Regions from separate parts of the Homo sapiens genome. Here region 1 is reported to be linked to region 2. The links are microRNA targets in miRTarBase. Many come from high-throughput screens and were not tested one by one. Region 2 holds a microRNA gene; the other region holds the end of a gene's coding sequence.

What was found. The annotated mature microRNA hsa-miR-4656 reads UGGGCUGAGGGCAGGAGGCCUGU and lies in region 2 at 1,152-1,174, opposite strand. An mRNA with a match to its seed (bases 2 to 7 or 8) in the 3' UTR can be bound and repressed. Matches are read on the target gene's strand: a 7mer-m8 pairs with bases 2 to 8, a 7mer-A1 pairs with bases 2 to 7 and ends in A, and an 8mer does both.
Region 1: the mRNA of LAPTM5 is a reported target of hsa-miR-4656. Seed matches in the 3' UTR shown: 8mer at 3,350-3,357 and 7mer-m8 at 2,558-2,564.

The regions. Positions count from the first base shown.
Region 1 is chr1:30,730,247-30,734,625 of GRCh38, forward strand. LAPTM5 (lysosomal protein transmembrane 5) reads right to left here. Exons shown (of 8, transcript NM_006762.3): 8 at 2,223-3,671. The coding sequence ends at 3,582. Among named protein-coding and RNA genes, the nearest start is that of MIR4420, 6.8 kb to the right of the region's middle. RefSeq lists enhancers at 1-96, 247-356, 2,026-2,531, 2,532-3,037, 3,078-3,579.
Region 2 is chr7:4,787,457-4,791,793 of GRCh38, forward strand. It overlaps MIR4656 (microRNA 4656), which reads right to left and starts at 1,183; the gene lies at 1,109-1,183. It overlaps AP5Z1 (adaptor related protein complex 5 subunit zeta 1), which reads left to right. Exons shown (of 17, transcript NM_014855.3): 11 at 178-320; 12 at 698-838; 13 at 1,384-1,495; 14 at 2,376-2,473; 15 at 3,003-3,135; 16 at 3,217-3,431; 17 at 3,659-4,337. The coding sequence ends at 3,929.

The DNA.
Region 1 (4,379 bases), not on the chromosome of region 2:
TCTTTTTTCCCTCCAAGAGACAACCACTCCAGGCTGCCCTCACCTGCCCAGGCCTGGAAGCAGCCCCCTCTGTCCTGGGGCCGGCTCCTTTCCAGGCATGAAGCTCAAACAGGCGCTGTCAGTGGGTCCAAACCATCGCAGCCCCGTCAAAGGACCCCTGTGTGAGCCTCAAACGGGGCATTGATAGGGCCTCAGTGAGGGCTGCCCAGGCGATCGTGGGCTCGCTTGGCTTGGCTAGCCATGCGGACTTCCCCAAACCCAGCTATTTCCTGTCCCTCGGGTGGCCCCCTCCCAGCTGCCTGGCCACAGGGCACAATCCCACTACACAGCTCAGCCTGTTCTTCGGCTCCAGGCCAGAGGTGGGAGTCGGGGAAGGCGGGAAGGACGGGAGAGTCGCGCCGGGAAGTTCAGGGCCTCCTGGTCCTTGTGACACACGCAGCCATGGCCCTTCAATCTCCTTGTGATAGGATGCAAGGCTGGGCCAATGTCTCTCCTCCCGTGACCTCTGCTCCCAATCCACACTTGCCGGGGCTTCTCAGCGGGCCCTCTTCCCATGGGTCTTTGCAAGAAGCAACAACTGACACAGACTGGGCCCCAGCCCGTCTAAAAGCCTCCACTCGGAGTAGAAAAAAAAGGTGCTTGGTCTCATCTCTGACCACTGTGTGGCCTCAGGAAAGTCACTTGATGTCTCTGGGCCTCTGCCCTCAAGTGTGAACAGGAGCTCGCTTTCCATTTCTGTGAATTACACTGCACCAACTGCTTGGGGGTCTGATAAGGAGCAAATAACATCCATGAAGAAATCTGCCATTCCACAAAAAAACTGACACCACCAGAAGGTTGACAATGCCTCTCAAACTCATCCCCGTCCCTGCCGCCCCATAGGATGACTTCCCCAGCCTTTGTAGGGGTCCCTGCATTTGGGCTCTTCCTTCCTAAAACCCAAACCTTGTAACTCCTTGGCCCAAAATCCTTCAAAGACACCTGTCTCAGGATTAGTCCATGTTCCTCGGTGTGACATTCAAGGCTCTGAGGGCTCTTTTGGTATTGGTGACAGATCCCAATTCAAACAGCCCTGGTCTCTTTATTAACTTTACTTTCAGGTAAGTCCTCAACAGCTCAGCCACACCGGGGAGAAAAGATAAGAGATGGAGAAACAGAGAGACATTATTAAAGAGTTGTAGTCCTGGATCCTGCCATACCTGAAGCCAAAAATCCCTGGATTTTTTATTTGTATGAGAGCCAAGAAACATCGTGAACCACCTTCTGGTTTCTCATAATAAACTTGGCTCATAAGGCTTCTGTTACTTGCAACCATGTCCTTCCTGTAAATTCCCTTCTTGGCTGAACTTAGCCAGGGTGAGCTTGCACCTAAAGAGCCCCACTGTGTGCAAACACTCTTCCTGACCCAGCCCCACAGCGGGCCGACCTCTTCTCCCTCCCCTCCCCACTTGCAGCCACGCTGAGCAGCTCGCCCCAGCTCCTCTCCCCAATGCCATAGAGTCTTTGCGTGTCCTGCTACCTAGACCTAGAGCACCCTTCCCATTCTGCTTACTGCTGCCTTCTCATCCTTCAGACTCCACTTGGTGACAGCCTCCAAGAGGCTTTCTCTGGCCCTCAGGCCACGTCTGAGGTCCCCTAGGCTTTCCCTATCGTGGCAGCCCTTTTGCAGATCTGTCCCTCCTACCGCAGACTGGGGGGAACTGGAGGCGAGTCTCATCTGTTGAGGTCTTCCCCAGTGTCCAGAGCAGGACCCAGCCCCAGGGGAGTGGAGTGCACGCCTGATTAGGGAGACATCAGGGTGCATCATCTTGGGCTGTGGTTCATGATCAGACAGCATTGGGTCAGGACCACCCCTCGCTCAGCATGGCCCATGGGAGGAGTTTCTGGATGGAGCAACTAGGTATGTGTGAGTGTTTACATGGGTGTGTGGGGGTGGGCGTGTGTGGAGGGGTGTGGGGGGTGTGAGTGTGTGGGTATATGGGGGGTGTGTGGGTGTGTAGGCGGTGGGAGTGAGTGTGTGGAGGGGTGTGGGGAGGGTGTGAGTGTGTGGGTATGTGGGGGGAGTGTGGGTGTTTGGGTGTATTTGTGGGTGTGTGGGGGTGGGTGTGAGTGTGTGGAGGGGTGTGGGTGTAGGGGGTGTGGGTGAGTCCTGGGGTGATGGAGGTAGAAGGCTGGTCTCCACCCTCCCTACACTGTATTTCCAGAAACACATCAGCCAGACAGAAGCTTGTTGCTGCTTTATTGAAACTTCCTCCCTGTCGCACACAAAGCAATTACACAAGGGGGTATTGCCAGGGAGCTCTTGCAGAGCCTTCTCCCTCTGTACCCCCCGACAGTCCCCAGAGACCCTGCCTCCGTGGCCTCCACCTCTGGGTCAGCTCCCTGGAGGACCCCGACACACAGGGAAGCAGGCACAGGAGGGCTGTTGGGGCCAAACCTCCCCAGCTGCCACAACCGCCATGACCCCAGTGGCAGGGTCAGTGCCCACAAGGGGGTTGCCTGCTTTGACTGAACTAACCTGTGGGTTTAGTCCAACGAACAGATGTGCCTGATTTCAGGGCTGAATTTTTGCTTGACCACAAGCCTCGGGCAGAACAGATTCGCCTATGACTGAATCGACTGAATGGATGGCCAGCGACAGCCTGGCCTGGGAATGGACTGGCAGCTCATCACTAAAATGACTCCTTTCATGGAATCCACTGTTATGCAGCCACACTGACCACAGAGCAACTGAATAGGTGAGCATTGGATTGTTGATGACAACTCTTCAGCAGAACAATTGTGTGTTTGAAGGGACTGTTTTATGATGAAATAACTGTTATTTCCTGGAGCTAATTGTTGAATGACAGTTTGTCAACTGTTTAAATGAATTTCATTTGAATTAACAATTATACAGCCACTCAGAGGTCCTACATTCGCCAGAGTTGGCATCCAGTTGATGGGTTCATTTGAATTAAATGGTTTGGAGGCTAACGTGATTTTTTAAATTGAATTTCATCACTATTCTGTGTATTCTATTTATCACTATTCTAAATGACTCATGGTTGGCTAATTGATTATCATGTAAGCAAGCTATTTGAAGAAATTGATTACATATATTTATATATAGGGGGTAACTAATTAATGATTACTTGATTAAATTGCTATGTGAACTGACAACTATTTATAAATCAATGCAATAGACTGTTGTTTGACCAAATTATTTTACTGAACTGACAAGTGGGTTTTTGATTTGTCAGTTGCTTGGCTGAACTGATCAAGTCGATAGTTGCTTGACAAACTCACCAACTTTAGAATGGCCAATCGTCTAAACAAGTGTCAGAGCTGATTGAAATAAACCAAGCATTGTTGGGCTGAATTATGGAGAGACCCGAGGAGTGACTCAGCCTAAAGCGTTGACCCAGTTGTGAGCAGCTCACAGGCCCTGCAGGAGGAGCAGGCCAGCGAGGGAGACACAAGCAGATTGTCCTGCCAGGGAGGGGCGGGAGGGCCCACCCAGGCCACAGGGGCCACCAAAGCAAAAAAGCAGATTATGAGGCAGCTCCACCCCTCCCAGCACTGGGGCTGGGGCCTGGCGAGGGTCACACCTCTGAGTATGGGGGTGGTGCTGGGCCCCCCTCTGGGGTCTTCGATGGCAAAGACAGGGCTTCCTCGTAGGACGGCAGGACCACCTGGGAGAGACAGAGAGATGAGGGCTGAGTATGGTCAAGAATGACCTGCAATTCCAACCTGGGGTCATGGGACCCAAACCCCCACCTCTGGCAAAATGATGATGATAATGACTGGCAGGTCTTGGATATTTGCTATGTGCTAGACATTGCCTGCATGAGATAGGTGCAGTTCCCAGCCCTGTAGTGGACATATTTGCCTTTGCCTATTCAGCATCAAGTCCCCCTTATTTTGAAAACAGTGCACCATTTTCCTTGGGAAAACATTCTCAGTCCATATACCTTCAGAAGAACTGGTCCCATCCCTCAGATCCAGCGAGGTGGCTGGACTTGGCCACTCAAAGTAGAATTCCATCCCCCTGGCTATAGTCCTTGGTTTGGGGATAGGCACGTGGCCCAAGTTGGTCCAATCAGACATACTCCTGGGACCTTCTTTTTCTGTTGGGATTTCTGAGAGGGTGGGATATCTGCCTAGGGGTTTTGGCAGCCTTTTTGCCACCACAAGGGATGGGCTTCCGGAAAATGAAGCCAACATCAAGGAAAGTAGAGTCAAGAGTTGGAGAGGACGAGATCATATCCTGATGTCAGGACTCAGCCAGGCCCAAGCCAGACCTACATTTGGCTGCTAAGTTCTGTGAGCTAGTAAATTCCTGAAGTCAGATTGAGTTGGGTTTCTGCCACTTGCAACCAAAAGTGTCTTAGCTAATACAA
Region 2 (4,337 bases):
GCCTGGGCGACAGAGCAAGACCCTGTCTCAAAAAAATAAAAAGCGGGAGGAGGCAAAGGTAGAAGCCCTCCTGGGGACTGCAGGTCTGGGACAGCTGTGGGGCCCTAGCTGGCTCCTCCCTCTGCCGCCTGCTCCACAGCTCCGAGCCGTGTCCGAACCGCTGTGCTGTGCCCACAGTTCCTGGCCTGGAACAGCCCACCCCTCACCTCCGAGTTTGTGGCGCTCCTCCCGGCCCTGGTGGACGCTGGCACAGCCCTGGAGATGCTGCACGCGCTGCTGGACCTGCCCTGCTTGACGGCGGTGCTGGACCTGCAGCTCAGGTGGGCCCCTCACCCTCTGCCAGCGCTGCGTCTCCCAGCCAGCTGGTTCCACACACTGGGCCCCCTCCTCGCTGCTCCTGACCCCTACACCGGGGACCCTCCTTCTTCCCCCCCCAACACCTGACCAGTCCTCCCCTGCAAAGCCACCTCTAGGACAGGGTGTGTCTGTCACCCTTGGCCACTTGCCAAGGGCAGCCCCTGCACCCTGGAGTGCCTCACCCGTCTTCACGCCCAGGCCTGGAGCCTCCCATGCCAAGCCCTTCCTGGCACCCGAGGTGCTGTGATATTAGGGACACCTGCCGTGTGTCTCCCTGACGGGGGTGCCCTTGAGTGCAGGGGCCGCATCCCAGCCTGGCCTTGGGCGTCTGTCCACGCAGGTCAGCACCGGCTGCATCCGAGAGGCCACTCTGGGACACCTCTCTCAGGGCCCCCAGCTGCCTGGAGGCCTTCCGGGACCCGCAGTTCCAGGGTCTTTTCCAATACCTGCTGCGCCCCAAGGCCAGTGGCGCCACTGAGAGGTACGGGGCCCTAGGGCCAGGGGGCCACCAGTGGCTCAGAGAGCCCGGCCACAGCCACTGGGGTGGGGCTCACTGCTCAGCCCTAGGCTGAGGCCAGGGTGCTTTGTGTCCCACACAAGGCTGCGTCCCCGTCATCACCATTATAGAGGCCCTGCTTCTGCACCACGGGTCTGCCGGGGGCGGGGCCTGGTCTCAGCTCTCTCTGCTGCCCACATCAACCCTCATAAGCTTGGAGGTTGGCCCTGTGGGTGCTCCATTTTGCAGATGGACAAACCGAGCCTGAGCCCAGGAAGCAGGAGGCCTGGGACCGGCCACAGGCCTCCTGCCCTCAGCCCACGCCAGCCTTTGTCCCGATGGCTTTACTGTCCCGGGTGTGCTGACGCCAGGGGTCTCCCCAAACCCAGGGGAGCAGGAGGTCCCGAGAGGCGATGAGTGAGGATGGGAGCGGGCTCAGCTGTGCGAGAGGGAGCAGTGGCGACGTGGCCCCGGCCTGCAGTCACCAGGTCGGGGAGCGGGCAGCACTCACGGCCACACTGTGTCCTCAGGTTGGCGCCACTCCACCAGCTGCTGCAGCCCATGGCCGGCTGTGCCCGCGTGGCCCAGTGTGCCCAGGCCGTGCCCACGCTGCTGCAGGCATTCTTCTCAGCAGTGACCCAGGTGAGCTCGCTGCCTGGGGCCCCCCATTCCCACAGGCCTCACAACTGAGGGGCAGGCCAGAGCCAGCACTGGGGGGCCCTCTTGAGCTCTGCAGAAGGCTGCTCCCGCCACACCCACCATCCACGGTCCCTGTGAGGGTCAGGGAGGCACATGCCACAGCCCCGGCAGGCCCCGTCCCTTGTCCCATCCCCTTTATTCCAGCAGGCCCCGTTCCCCAGTCCCCGTCCCATCCCCTTCATCCCGGCAGGCCACGTCCCCCAATCCCCGTCCCATCCCCTTCATCCCGGCAGGTCCTGTCTCCCATCCCAGCAGGCTCCATCCAACTGCCCCAGCAGGCCCTGTCTTCCGTCCCCAGGACAGGGCAAGTGAGTGGCCTGGGCTCTGGCCACACAGCTGGGGCCGGAGCAGTTTGTCCCCCTGCTGCCCCTGATAATTCAGCATCCCCATCTGAGGCCAAAATAAAGGCTCCCACAGGCTGGTGCCCCCCATCTCCCCCATTGCTGCTTCCCACCTCGGGGAGCTCTACAAGCCAGTGCAGGAGAGCCTGGGAGGTGGGGAGGCCGGCAGGGGGCTGGGCGTTGCTTGGGCGCACCCTTGGCCAAACAAGACGTGTGCCTGGCCTTGCAGAGCGGGAGTTGGCAGAGGAGCCGTGGAACAGAAGCGACACCTCTGCCGGGGGCACTTGGGCCAGCCCAGGGCTTCCCTCCCTGTGCCCGGATGCTGCCAGCTGAGTCTCTGTGTCCCTGGGTGTTGGGGAAGGCAGTGGACGAGGAGTCTCCAGCCCCTCACCTGCCCCCCAGCCCTCACCATGGCTTCACCCCCAACCTTAGGGCCTGCAGTGGGGGTGGGGCTGAGCCTGTTTCCCACTCCTGACCCCCAGGTGGCTGACGGGTCCCTGATCAACCAGCTGGCGCTGCTGCTCCTGGGCAGGAGCGACTCGCTCTACCCGGCCCCAGGGTACGCTGCCGGTGTGCACAGGTAGGTCCCTCCTGCGCTCCTGCCACAGCCCTGGGCGGGTGCCTCCTGGACTCCTCCCCCTCTCCCCTCCCCCCTCCCCTTCAGTGGCTTCGGCACCACCCCTAGCTGGGCCCTCAGCAGCCTCAGACCCTGCCACCCCCACCCACAGCCCCACACCCAGCCCCAGGCACTTCTCTCTGCTTCTCAAGAACATTCCCGTCCTTCTTTCTGCCGAGCCTGTCCTCTTCAGGGTTAGCTCAGGTCCCTCTTCCCCGTCTTGTCCCCTGGGGTCCTTCTCTCCAAAGGCCTGATGCATGCAGGCCCATCCTGGTTCCACTCTGAGCCTGGGCCTGAGGCCAGCGCTGGTGCCAGCCTTCTCCCCAGTGAGAACAGTTTCTCTGAGGCTGGCAGTCTTCTGTGTTCCTCTATCGGAGGGTGCAGCATACACCTACCACTCAGACGCTTCCCGGGTTTCTCCAGGCCCTTGGCCTGGATGGGGATGGGGTCATAGGTCTGCACAGAGCAGGCGTAGACCCGGCTTTCTGGGCAGTGTGCTGAGTTCTCAGTTCCTGGCCCTGTGTACGCTGAAACCCTCCCTGGTGGTGGAGCTGGCAAGAGACCTGCTGGAGTTCCTGGGCAGCGTGAATGGTCTCTGCAGCAGGGCGAGCCTCGTCACCAGCGTGGTAAGGCGGGCGCTGGCCTCCCACAGCCGCTCCTGACCCAGGAGGCCTGGGTGGGGGCTGAATCTCTGTCCCCGGGCCTAGGTGTGGGCCATCGGCGAGTACCTGTCGGTGACCTACGATCGGAGGTGCACCGTGGAGCAGATCAACAAGTTCTTCGAAGCCCTGGAGGCTCTGCTATTCGAGGTCACCCAGTGCCGCCCCTCTGCTGCCCTGCCCAGGTGTCCCCCCCAGGTGGTCACCGTGCTGATGACCACGCTGACGAAGCTGGCCTCCCGGAGCCAAGATCTGATCCCCAGGTGCCTGGTCAGGGAGGGAGCGAAGCCTTCTGGCTCCTGGGGAAGAGAGGTGGCTTCTGAGGTCTTCCCATCCAGGTGTTGTGAAATGGTCGCAGCAGCGCAGGTCCTGGGTGGGCCCTGCTGAGCTAAAGCCACTCTGCTGGGCGCTTCAGGCCTGGCCCCTCCACACAGACCCCTGTCCTGGGAGGGGAGCATCTGCAGCTGACGGAGGGACCTTCTTTCCCCAGGGCCTCTTTATTGCTGTCAAAGATGAGGACCCTGGCTCACAGTCCAGCCACCAGCTCCACGCACAGCGAGGAGGGCGCGGAAGCCATCCGTACCCGGGCCACAGAGCTGCTGACCCTGCTGAAGATGCCTAGCGTGGCCCAGTTTGTGCTCACACCCAGCACGGAGGTGTGCAGCCCCCGCTATCACCGCGATGCCAACACGGCCCTGCCCCTGGCCCTGCGCACGGTCAGCCGGCTGGTGGAGAGGGAGGCCGGCCTCATGCCAGGGTGAAGGGACAGTGGCCAGGGACTTCGGTGCAGATTAAGAGCCTGGGCAGCCAGCTTGCTACTGAGGCCAGGCTGATAGGAGCTCAGGAGGGCGCGGGAGTCCTGGGAGAGGAGGCAAGGCCCACGGTGGGCTTGGCACCCTCACAGACACGCGGGGCTGGCCCCCCTGCTCACCCTCTGGGCTTTGTCTCCGAGCCTTTTGCTCCCAGGCAACACTGAGCTGAGCTGAGGGGTGCCATGGAGCGGCTCTGATTGGAGGCTTGAGGCCCTGTGGCTGGGTCGGGTGGAGGCTGCTGGGTCTGTTTCCTAGTCTTTTGTTTTTGGACAGTTGATGGGCAAGAAGAGCTGCAGTAAAAGTAAATCTCCTTTAATAAGCGTCTGTATGAAGAGTGCGCGATCAGTTCCGTTACCT